Linked DNA regions of Homo sapiens: region 1 is linked to region 2. The links come from fine-mapping of genetic effects on gene expression. A gene starts in region 2. The other region holds a variant in brackets. All regions are shown on one strand. Distances are between the middles of the regions. Region 1 has its middle 22 kb from the start of UAP1-DT. Region 2 holds the start of UAP1 (UDP-N-acetylglucosamine pyrophosphorylase 1).

Region 1 (5,245 bases), 23 kb after region 2:
GAGAACTGAGGGAAGAGGGGAGTGTGTGGATGAGATTAATTGAACAGTCTGGACTCTGAAAATCCATTTGGTAGTTGCTCGTGACGCAATCCTTGGGGAAGTACCAGTCTAAGGTGCATGTAGATCCTGTACCAGGGTTCCAAACTATCTCAGGGTCAAAATGGCTGGCAGGCCGGCTGTTGCAGCATCAGTGGCTGGATGGTTTTTGGTAAGTGTATTATAATGCTGCAGGATTCCATAAACTGGGGTTAATGCCAGATGATACCATATATAAGGATGAAGAAGTAAGAGAAGCCATAAGAAGCCCTCCTGTGAACCTTTATAATAACAGGATGTTTCACATCGATTGCGCTGGACCTGACTATGAGGCAGCAGATCTCGCCTAAAGAACAGTGGACCAAATATGACAGGATAAATTCTACCTTGAACCGTATCTGAAAGCGGTTACTTGGGAGAGAAAAGAGAGAAAAGAATGGGCAAAGAAGTAATCATGCAGTTGAAATCTATGGATGCAGCTGTCCTCAAAGTATTTTTATGAAGATGTTGGTTAACGCCAAAACACAATTTAATAATTATTTAGGCCGGGCGCAGTGGCTCACACCTGTAATCCCAGCACTTTGGGAGGCCGAGGCGGGTGGATCACCTGAAGTCAAGAGTTCAAGATCAGCCTGGCCAACATAGCGAAACCCTATCTCTACTTTAAAAAATACAAAAATTAGTTGGGCGTGGTGGCGGGCACTTGTAATCCCAGCTACTCGGGAGACTGAGGTAGGAGAATCGCTTGAACCTGGGAGGCGAAAGTTGCAGTGAGCCGAGATCGCACCACTGCACTCCAGCCTGGGTGACAGAGTGAGACTCCGTCTCAGAAAAAAAAAAAAAAAGAAAAGAAAAGAAAAGTATTTAGTCTGCACGTTTTCCTTTAAATAAATACCTATAGTAAAAACAACAACAACAACAACAACAAACTGTCTCAAATGAATCCAATACGTACCCCAACTTTACCAAGTTGGTTGATGTTTGTTTTTATTTTTGGCATCCTGAGATCACTGTATTTTATTATCCAGATAAAATAATTCCAATTACGGCCGGGCGCGGTGGCTCACGCCTGTAATCCCAGCACTTTGGGAGGCCGAGGCGGGCGGATCACGAGGTCAGGAGATCGAGACCATCCTGGCTAACACAGTGAAACCCCGTCTCTACTAAAAATACAAAAAAAAAATTAGCCAGACGTGGTGGCGGGCGCCTGTAGTCCCAGCTACTCGCGAGGCTGAGGCAGGAGAATGGCGTGAACCCGAGAGGCGGAGCTTGCAGAGAGCCGAGATTGCGCCACTGCACTCCAGCCTGGACGACAGAGCAAGACTCCATCTCAAAAAAATAAAGTAATTCCAATTTCATGTCTTTGGATTCCCCACAAGCAGAAAATCAGGTAATCACTTGATTGTCTCTGTACCCAAGGAACAAAATCTTTAATATACGGAGCGGTTTGGCCCCTTCTTATTTCCACACACTAGTCTGTGAGTACTGTCTTTACATCACCCAAAGACCTGTTGAATTGCTTCCCCAAACAAAAGATGAATTCTCTCTGGAGCTATAAAATGCACCTTGTAAAACTGTAGTATTTTTGCAATTTGCGACTACCACCCAGAAACCATTTTAAAATGACAAAGATTTTCTGCTTTTTTTTTTTTTTTTTTTTTTTGAGACAGAGTTTCACTCTTGTTGCCCAGGCTGGAGTGCAATGGCGCAATCTCGGCTCACTGCATCCTCTGCCTCCCCGGTTCAAGTGATTCTCCTGCCTCAGCCTCCCAAGTAGCTGGGATTACCAGCATGCACCACCATGCCCAGCTAATTTTGTATTTTTAGTAGAGACGGGGTTTCTCCATGTTGGTCAGGCTGGTCTCGAACTCTCAACCTCAGGTGATCCGCCCACCTCGGCCCCCCAAAGTGGTGGGATTACAGGTGTTAGCCACTGCCACTGGTGTTTTCTGGTTTCTTATTCACAGTTTATAGTCAGGATCTTAATGATCTCATGTAGAATATTTCTCTTTAAAATTTGGTACAGTTTATTATGAACAATGTCTTTGTATGAGAAAAATATA[A/T]TAATCATATGTAATACAAATTCTGTAGGCAAGAAAGAAAAGTATGTTATCCCGCAGGCTCAGGCTGGACATTTTTTTTTTTTTTTTTTTTTTTTGAGATGGAATCGGGCTCTGTCACCCAGACTGGAGATCAGTGCCGAAATCTATGTTCACTGCAACCTCCACCTCCCGGGTTCAAGCGATTCTCCTGCCTCAGCCTCCCGAGTAGCTGGGATTACAGGCACCTGCCACAACGCCCAGCTAATTTTTGTATTTTTAGTAGAGACAGAGTTTCCTCATGTTGCCCAGGCTGGTCTTGAACTCCTGACCTCAAAGGATCCACTTGTCTCAGCCTCCCAAAGTGCTGGGATTGCAGGCATGAGTCACCACCCCTGGTTCAGGCTTGGCTTTTAATTCTGCTGCTCACCCAGTGTGGTCAGGCAAACCTGCCCTCTCCTGTACGTGAGCTTTGAGCATTTGTTGGGCTGTTCTAACAGAGATCATAGTTGCCATACTTACCTTCATTGAGAACTGTATTTTTCCATAAAGAGGGTGCTGCTTCAAGTTAGGAAGGAACTTCAGAAGGGCTTAATATGAAGTGATGCAAGAATAAGAAAAGGCCTCTCAATTCAGGCAACTGAAAGTTTGAGAATCAGAGTCATTCAATTCATATGCTCTGAGATCAGTCATTATTAGCCTGTATGTGTGGTTTTTGTTTTCCTGTACAACCTAGAAAATTAGTCTTTGGTCATGTTCCTGGAATTCAAAGAAATATCATGAGCAATGAGTTAAGTATGTATTTTATCTAAGAAATGTAGTCTACCTATTATATGGGGCATGTGTATGTGAGGCACATACACAAAATTATTCAGCTTTGTTGAAGCCAGTAGTGAAAAGCATAATTAAAGAGAGATTTAAGTCTTGAAATTCTGGTGACACAGGGGATAGGCTGCTTGAATTCGGCCACAAAACCTTATTTCTGACATATTAAACAAACAGATTAAGAAACAATTGGCCCATATAAGCCCACGTCTATGTTAACAGTAAAATATTCCTTATGAATTAATTAGTCAACTTACTGAGTTTTGCATCCGAGTAAGAATCCCCTTTTACCTATTCATACAGCTATAAACTACAAGCGAAATTAAGATCTTGTTATCTGTGGAAGGAAAAGATATTGTTAAAATCTCAGACAAAAATCCACCCCCCCATTTTCATTTAAATATGAAAGCAAAGTTGTATTAAGGAGGTTAAAAATTATATATAATAATATTTATATGAAATAAAAATATTGATGGTGGCAGTATTATTTTTCCTCCACAATATCAAAGGGTAGAGAATATAGTCTATATTTAATTATTCCTTGACAAGCTTAATAACCTAATTTTTTTTTTTTTGAGACAAAGTGTCACTCTGTCACCCAGGCTGGAGTACAGTGGCACGATCTCAGCTTCCTGCAACCTCTGCCTCCTGGGTTCAAACAATTCTCCTGCCTCAGCTTCCCGAGTAGCTGGGATTACAAGTGTGCACCACCAAGCCCAGCTGATTTTTTGTATTTTTAGTAGAGATGGGGTTTCACCATGTTGCCCAGACTGCTCTCAAACTCCTGACCTCAAGTGATCCACCCACCTCGGCCTCCAAAGTGCAGGCATTACAGATGTAAGCCACCGTGCCTGACCACCTAATGAAAAAAATAATAATGGTAATAATAGAAAAAAAGCAAAAAGCATTCATAACTATGTTTCTGGATCCACTGTAGATGACATATTTTTCCACAGTTGCAAGTAAAAATGAGTTTTCCAAAATGTAAAATTGTTAGAAACAAAAAGTATGGGCATGCTAAAAAAAAAAATCCTGCTATGAGGGAGGTTCCTTACATCAAAAATGGTCAGGATGAGTTAGGCACTAACACCAAATGATGAGAAAAATGGACATAACATTGAAGGGAAGATGTTTTGAAATGCTCAACTTGCAGCCCAACATAAGAAGAGAAATTTGGATGACGATGAGAACAAAAGGGAGGGAAAGACACCTCACAGGTGTTTCATGTGAATAAGCTCATTTAGTCTTCACAGCAATTTTATAATGTAAATATGATTATTATCTCTATGTTACAAAAGAGGAAACCAAGTCTTATAAAGTTTAAGCAGCTTACTAAGGTCATATCGTTACTGTGTGAGGAAGTCTCTCCAACTTGGAGAGTGCAAGGGAGAGTCATATAAGTCCCTGGAACACTCCAACTTGCCTTTCTATTTTCATTTCCAAGCTGCCTCCTTTGCCTGGTCCTGAAATCTCTAATTCTCTCTCTCCCTCTCTCTCTCTCTCTCTCTCTCTTTCTCTCTCTCTCTCTCTCACACACACAAATTTGGCATCTCACCTCTTTTACCCTAATTAAACTTGGCCTTTGTCAGCAGGCAACTGGTTCTGATGCTCTGTCAATGAAGATAATGGAGAAATATGGTGTTTTTTTTTTTTTTGGAGTCGGAGTCTTGCTCTGTCACTAGGCTGGAGTGCAGTAACAGTCTCGGCTCACTGCAACCTCCGCCTCCTGGGTTCAAGCGATTCTTCTGCCTCAGCCTCCCGAGTAGCTGGGATTACAGGTGCGCACCCACCACGCCCAGCTAATTTTTGTATTTTTAGTAGAGATGGGGTTTCACCAGGTTGGCCAGGTTGGTCTTGAACTGCTGACCTCGTGATCCACCTGCCTCAGCCTCCCAAAGTGCTGGCATTACAGGTGTGAGCCACCGCACCTGGCCGAAATATGGCATTAAAATGGAACCTTCTGTTCCTTAACCCCAGACTCTCTATATCCACTTGTGATACAAACCAATGTAGCAACATAACCAGCCCTTGCCATATCTTCCCTACTGCTTAAGGGTTAGCCAATTAGCTGATTTCCCTTGCCTGTTTCTTTGGGAACAAAGAAAACAATTGTGTCATGTACATGAACAGACACATGAACAAGTAGGTGGAAGCCATTTTGAATGGTAGAATTTCAGTTTGCCAAAACCATAAAAGTGACTCACAACACCACTTTCAGGCAGCCTAGTTCAGGGGCCATAGCTGCATATGTTATTTATCATCAGACCCAACCTCCAAATTCTCTTTCTTGGCTATAATGCAAAGTCAGATGCTTAGGCCTTTGATGAATGTGCAGCAATAATAAG
Region 2 (5,500 bases):
AAATGGCCTGGGGTAGGGCTAGATCATGAAAAGCCTGAAAACTAACCAAAAGAATTTAGACTTCAGAGAATAAGTAATAGAAAGCGAACAGTAGATTCTCAAACAGGGCAGTGTTACCATGCTTTAAAGAGATGAGAGAAAGGAGCAATGGATACAATAGATTGTAAGGAGGGACAACTAGAAGCAGGAAAAGAAGTTAAAAGACAACTGCAGGTATGAAATACCAAAGGTCTGAACCAGATTAGTGGCAGAGAAAATGAGAGTGAAAGGAATAAATTTGAGGGTCACTGTAAAGAATCATCACTGCATTATAATTGCTTCGATGTGAGAGACAGAGGTTAAAAGTAGGTTCTAAAGACACTTATCTTCTCTTCCTATAAGAACAGTGAAAAGTAATACACATGGTAGTTCAGAGCACAATTCTAGGCTAAGCTGAGCCACTTAATTTCCCCATGCCTCGGTTACCTTATCTGTAAAATGAGATTAATAATAGTATCTACCTCACCAGGATCATTAAACATCAAACTCCATTTACAAGCTCAGGTCTAGAGAACCTACATCTGTGTGTTCCCTGAGGTGGTAATAACAACACTCAGCTTTCAATGTTCATTATGGTATTAAAAGGCATTCCTATTGATTTATATAGGTTTCAAGAGTCATGATGCTATTATTTTTTAATTTTAAAAAATCACATTAAAAAAGACACTTGAGAGGAACAGATTTATATTAAATTATTTTCCAAGGAATGTAGTCTTTCCCAAGACCTTATTTATGCTGCTGCTTTGCCTCTGATTTAAGGGAGTACATTGTAGTAGGAAGATCAGCAAGGAACCAGATAACCAAAGAATAGGAAGTCCCTGTTCTTGGTCCTTCTCTATCATTTGATTCTATGCAATCATTTTACCTCCCTGTGCATAGATTTCCTCATGAATATAAGACAACCAACCTTTCTCACATGCCTTCAAGATAGTCAAGAGTAAAGAGTGCTCTGTCTGATAAAAGGCATACACAAACATATTACTATAACATTTTAAGATATAAACCAAACTTTTCCTAAAAGATCATTAGATACTCCTCCACCTTCAGACACTTGGGAAAATGAATCCATGCAAATAAGATACCTCATAGGGCCGGGCGCGGTGGCTCACGCCTGTAATTCCAGTACTTTGGGAGGCCGAGGCGGGCGGATCATGAGGTCAAGAGATGGAGACCATTCTGGCCAACATGGTGAAACCCCATCTCCACTAAAAATACAAAAATTAGCTGGGCATGGTGGCACGCGCCTGTAGTCCCAGCTACTCAGGAGGCTGAGGCAGGAGAATCGCCTGAACCGGGGAGGCGGAGGTTGTAGTAAGCCGACATCACGCCACTGAACTCCAGCCTGGCGACAGAGTGAGACTCTCCGTCTCAAAAAATAAAAATAAAAAAAAAAAGGGTACCTCATAGGTTAAACTTTGATATCTGGGCGTAAACCACTGGTAACATGTGTTCATCTACATGTTGTATAATGTTCATAATGTAACGACCATACTTGAGTTTTGGACAAGCACAATTCATCTATTATATTTATTTGAGGCAGATATAAGCACCTTCATGCCACAAAAATAGTAGCATGTTTCCCATTAACGATGTTTAGAGGCACGTGTAATGGTAAGCAGCAATTAACAGAAGAGTTAAAAGATATGGATTTTTATTTTGACAACCGAAATCTGAAAAAGTTGAAAATCTGCTCGAGAAATTATGACAAAACTTGGTACATGCCCACAGCCTAATCCATCTGCATCAAAATATATGAAAAATTTGGTAATAATCTACCATTATCAAATATATTTTTATTAGAATTTAAATACCAGTATTAAAGAAATCCAGTATTTCTCCCTCCTTTTCTGGCTTCCCCCACCCAGCCCCTATCTCTGCTGGTATACGTATGCCCTCGAAATGAATAAGTAAACCTCTTAAAGCTTTTGAAAAACAGTATCAGAGTTGAGACATAACCACCAACTGAATCCTATAAATGCTTGGCAGCACAGCCTATGAAGTCTTTCTTTGCTCCAGCTAAGTGAGCCAACTGACTAACCGTGAAGGAATAGACAACTGCCTTGAGTTTCCGGCGAACTCTTGGATCCACACCCAGTGAATTTCACCTAAAAGTCCTTAAACTTTTGCAATACCAAATGACACACACATATGATCATAATCCTATTACCTGATTTCAGATTTCATAAACCATGTAGAAGTAAGTGTAGCACAGCGACAGGCCAAAGTTCAAGCAGCCATATGTTCAGCATACGTGTGCTCAGCCCTCCAATACCATCCTTCTGCTTGGCCAAGAGAGGGGAAACCCAGAAATTTCAATTCTCTCTCACTACCAGTATCATGGCAAACCAAACCAAAAAAAAGAAAGAAAAAAGTGGCAAGCAAACAGGTTTTGTCCCACTGTCCTGTCCTCCAAATGTATCCCCTGTCTTTGTCAGACCTCTCAAATCTTTTCCTCATATATTCAAGACACACCAACTCGCTTCCACCTGACAGTGCCAACGATCTCCTGTCCCACTACAGGCCCCCACACTTGGTATAACTGTCCACAAGGCCCTAGCCTGAGAGCCTCGAGGTCTCTACTGCCCACCCGGGAGAGGCCCCACTCCCAACCCCACACGCCTACACGACCCCCTCGGACTCAGACACTGGCCCAGACCTCCTCCCACAACGCCCCCAGTCCATCTGGGGCGCGCTCATTCCATCCCTGGCCCCGCCATCCACCCGGCTGCCCAGCCCACACACCCTCTCGCGGGGTGGCGGAGGATGGGGTGCGACTGCGGGGCGCACGGGCTGGGGTGTGTGTCTGCGGGCGAGCGGGAGGCTCCTCGGCGTGTGCTCGGCTGCCCGCGCTGTGCACGTTCGTGCGACGCGTGTCCACGTCTGAGCGCGTGGCCGTGTGTGCGGTGGGGCCAGGCCCTCCGCCCGCCCGGGTCCCGAGCCCCGCCGTCTCCTCGCTGGGCTGGGAGCCCCTCACCTTTCTCGGCGCGACCGCAGCTACGACCGTCTCCAGCTCCTTCCGCGCGGCCACTCATCGGCGTCCCGCGCTCGCTCCGAATATATACCCTCATCCGGGGGGCCGCGGCGGCGGGGCGGGCCGGGAGCGGGGGCCAAGTGGAGCGCCAGCCCCGGCCACCCCGCCCCTCTCGCCACGACTAGTGGCTGCCGACGCCTGAAGGAGTGGAAGCCGACCGCCCAGACACGTCAGCGCCGGGAGCACAGACGACGACGCGGACGCGGAGGCGGCCGCGGCCCGGGGCGCCGGGGCGGGGCTAGGGATGGGGGCCGGGCATGAAAGGAGTAACCCACCGGGCCGGGGCGGGGCCTAGTGCGTCACTCATTCTCTGGCCCAATGGGAATAGTTCTGGAGCGCAGTCGGCTGGCGTCCCGGTCCCTCCTGCGCACTAACTGAGGGTGAAGGATGTCGGTTGGGTCTGCTAGGAGGGGCCAGGAGCCGGCCGGCAGAGAGCGGCTCGTGGGTCCCAGGACCCCTGACGTCCCTAGGTTGTACTGGGAGGTGCGAGCCCGAGGCTCTTAGTCGGCCCAGCGGCACGGGGCACAAGCGGGCCACAGAGATGGGCAGGGAGCTGTGTCCCCAGGGTGGCGGATTTCCGAGCCACCCACGCGGGTGGTTGGGAAAGGGCGGTGGATTTTCCTGCGGAGAAACTTTCAGGGCGGGCCTGGCGCGCTCTCTGACCTTGGGCTAGTTATTTTGTGTGCAGTTCACAAGATGCCTGGCCGGGCTCCAAACTCGCTCTCTGTTTGGTTGTGTTTTGGCTCCCAAGAAGGCGAAGCCAGGCCTTTTTTCTTTTGCACAAACAGACAGGAAAGGAGAGAGGAAATGCAAGCAAAGGTAGTAGGTAACCTAAGGTAGTATAAGCCCGGGGTCATCTTTGTGAGTTTGCAGACTTAACGTCGCTAGGCCTCAGTACTCTGCAGAAAGATGGTGGAGGACCTAGATGACCTCCCAGGCCATTCCAGGACCAGTGTTTACAGTCCTGTTACATAACCTAGTGTGGGTGTGCACACACAGGTTATTATATGTTCAGCACTGTGCCCTTGGAAGCTATGTTTACATTTAAAGTTGTGTTGCATTTTGCAGCTTTTGCAAGAAGTGGAATATGTTGAAATACGAAAATACCTAGATTTAACATACCACCTATCATAAAGAGATTCAGGCGCCTTTCTTCTACTTTCTTGGGTGCAAAGGCCTTTTCATTCCCTTTACCAATTGCATAATCACCCACTGCCTCAAGTAACAACAGAAAAACTTAAACTTGGTAAGTAATGCTGGTAGATTTACATTCAGGAGATTGAATACTCTCCATCTCTCATGATCCTAGAACTTCCTTCGTTTCTTTGAAAGAAGAATAGTGTAGTGATTGGTTTATAGTGTAGTGATTGGTTTCTTAATCATGGGATCTGAAGACAATTTCAGCTTTATTGCTTGTGATCTTTGGCAAGCTACTTGTGCTATCAGTTTTCTCATCTATAAAAAACAGACAATAAAGATGAAAATGCCATTTGGTGGTTGTATTAAACCAATCGATATAAATGAAGTATGTAAAACAGTAAACACTAAATAACCTTTAGTTATTATTTATTATTGAGCACTTATTAATTCAAACTAGGAGACCCAGATTCAAAATCAGTCTACGCTTACTAACTGTGTGACTTTGGGTAAGTCATTTAACCACTCCAAACTCCAATGTCCTTTTATGAAATGAAGCTAATACCTATTTCACATGGGTATAGTAAAAAATGAGAAAGAACCTAAGATAATGTCTGGAATATTATAGGCATTCTATAAGTCATAGATGAATGACTGAGTAAAGAGCAAAATTATTAGTTAGCAATCCTTTAAAGAAAAAAGATAGAACTGAGGTCCAGCTCAATGTTTTTAATGAACTACTATAAAATCACATTTGTACTTTTACCCTTTTTTGCTGAAGTTTCATTTGTTTGTTATTCTGGTTACTAGGCATAAGAGGGGCCATAATCTCATCTTGCCAGCTAAATGTCCAGAAATGTCTAACACTAGAGTTATTTCTGTCCTTCGAAATACTTTTTATATACATGGTCTTTTAAGAGCTGATTGAAGAAAACAAGGCAACGATGTTCACACTACCTATGATTTTTTGACATTACACCAAAGGTATCAGCTAATGAAGTTAGACAACAGAAATCCTAAGAGGCTTATAAATTAGAAAAAATATATAAGAATTAAAAAATTATTTTTTAAGAATTTTAAAAAGTCATAAAACTACTTCGACTTGCAAATGACAAGAGAGAATACCTGGAAAGCCCTTGAGAGTCAACAATAAGACTAACAAACCACAGAAAAATTTTGGTTAGTGTATTAGTCCGTTTTCACACTGCTATCAAGAGATACCCAAGACTGGGTAATTTATAAAGAAAAGAGGTTTAATTGACTCACAGTTCTGCATGGCTGCAGAGGCCTCAG

Evidence for each region. PIP is the estimated chance that this variant, and not a neighbour inherited with it, causes the effect. A credible set is the group of variants that fine-mapping cannot tell apart.
Region 1: its variant is the best candidate, but not a certain one, in a credible set for the expression of UAP1 in T cells (TOPMed, PIP 0.71).

Annotation. Positions count from the first base shown.
Region 1 is chr1:162,536,575-162,541,819 of GRCh38, reverse strand. It overlaps the pseudogene UQCRBP2. Among named protein-coding and RNA genes, the nearest start is that of UAP1-DT, 22 kb to the left of the region's middle. The variant A/T (reference allele first, on the strand shown) is at 2,100.
Region 2 is chr1:162,559,291-162,564,790 of GRCh38, reverse strand. It overlaps UAP1 (UDP-N-acetylglucosamine pyrophosphorylase 1), which reads right to left and starts at 3,069. Exons shown (of 11, transcript NM_001324116.5): 1 at 3,014-3,069. It overlaps UAP1-DT (UAP1 divergent transcript), which reads left to right and starts at 3,438. Exons shown (of 3, transcript XR_426859.4): 1 at 3,438-3,553; 2 at 4,139-4,316. RefSeq lists a silencer at 2,581-3,480.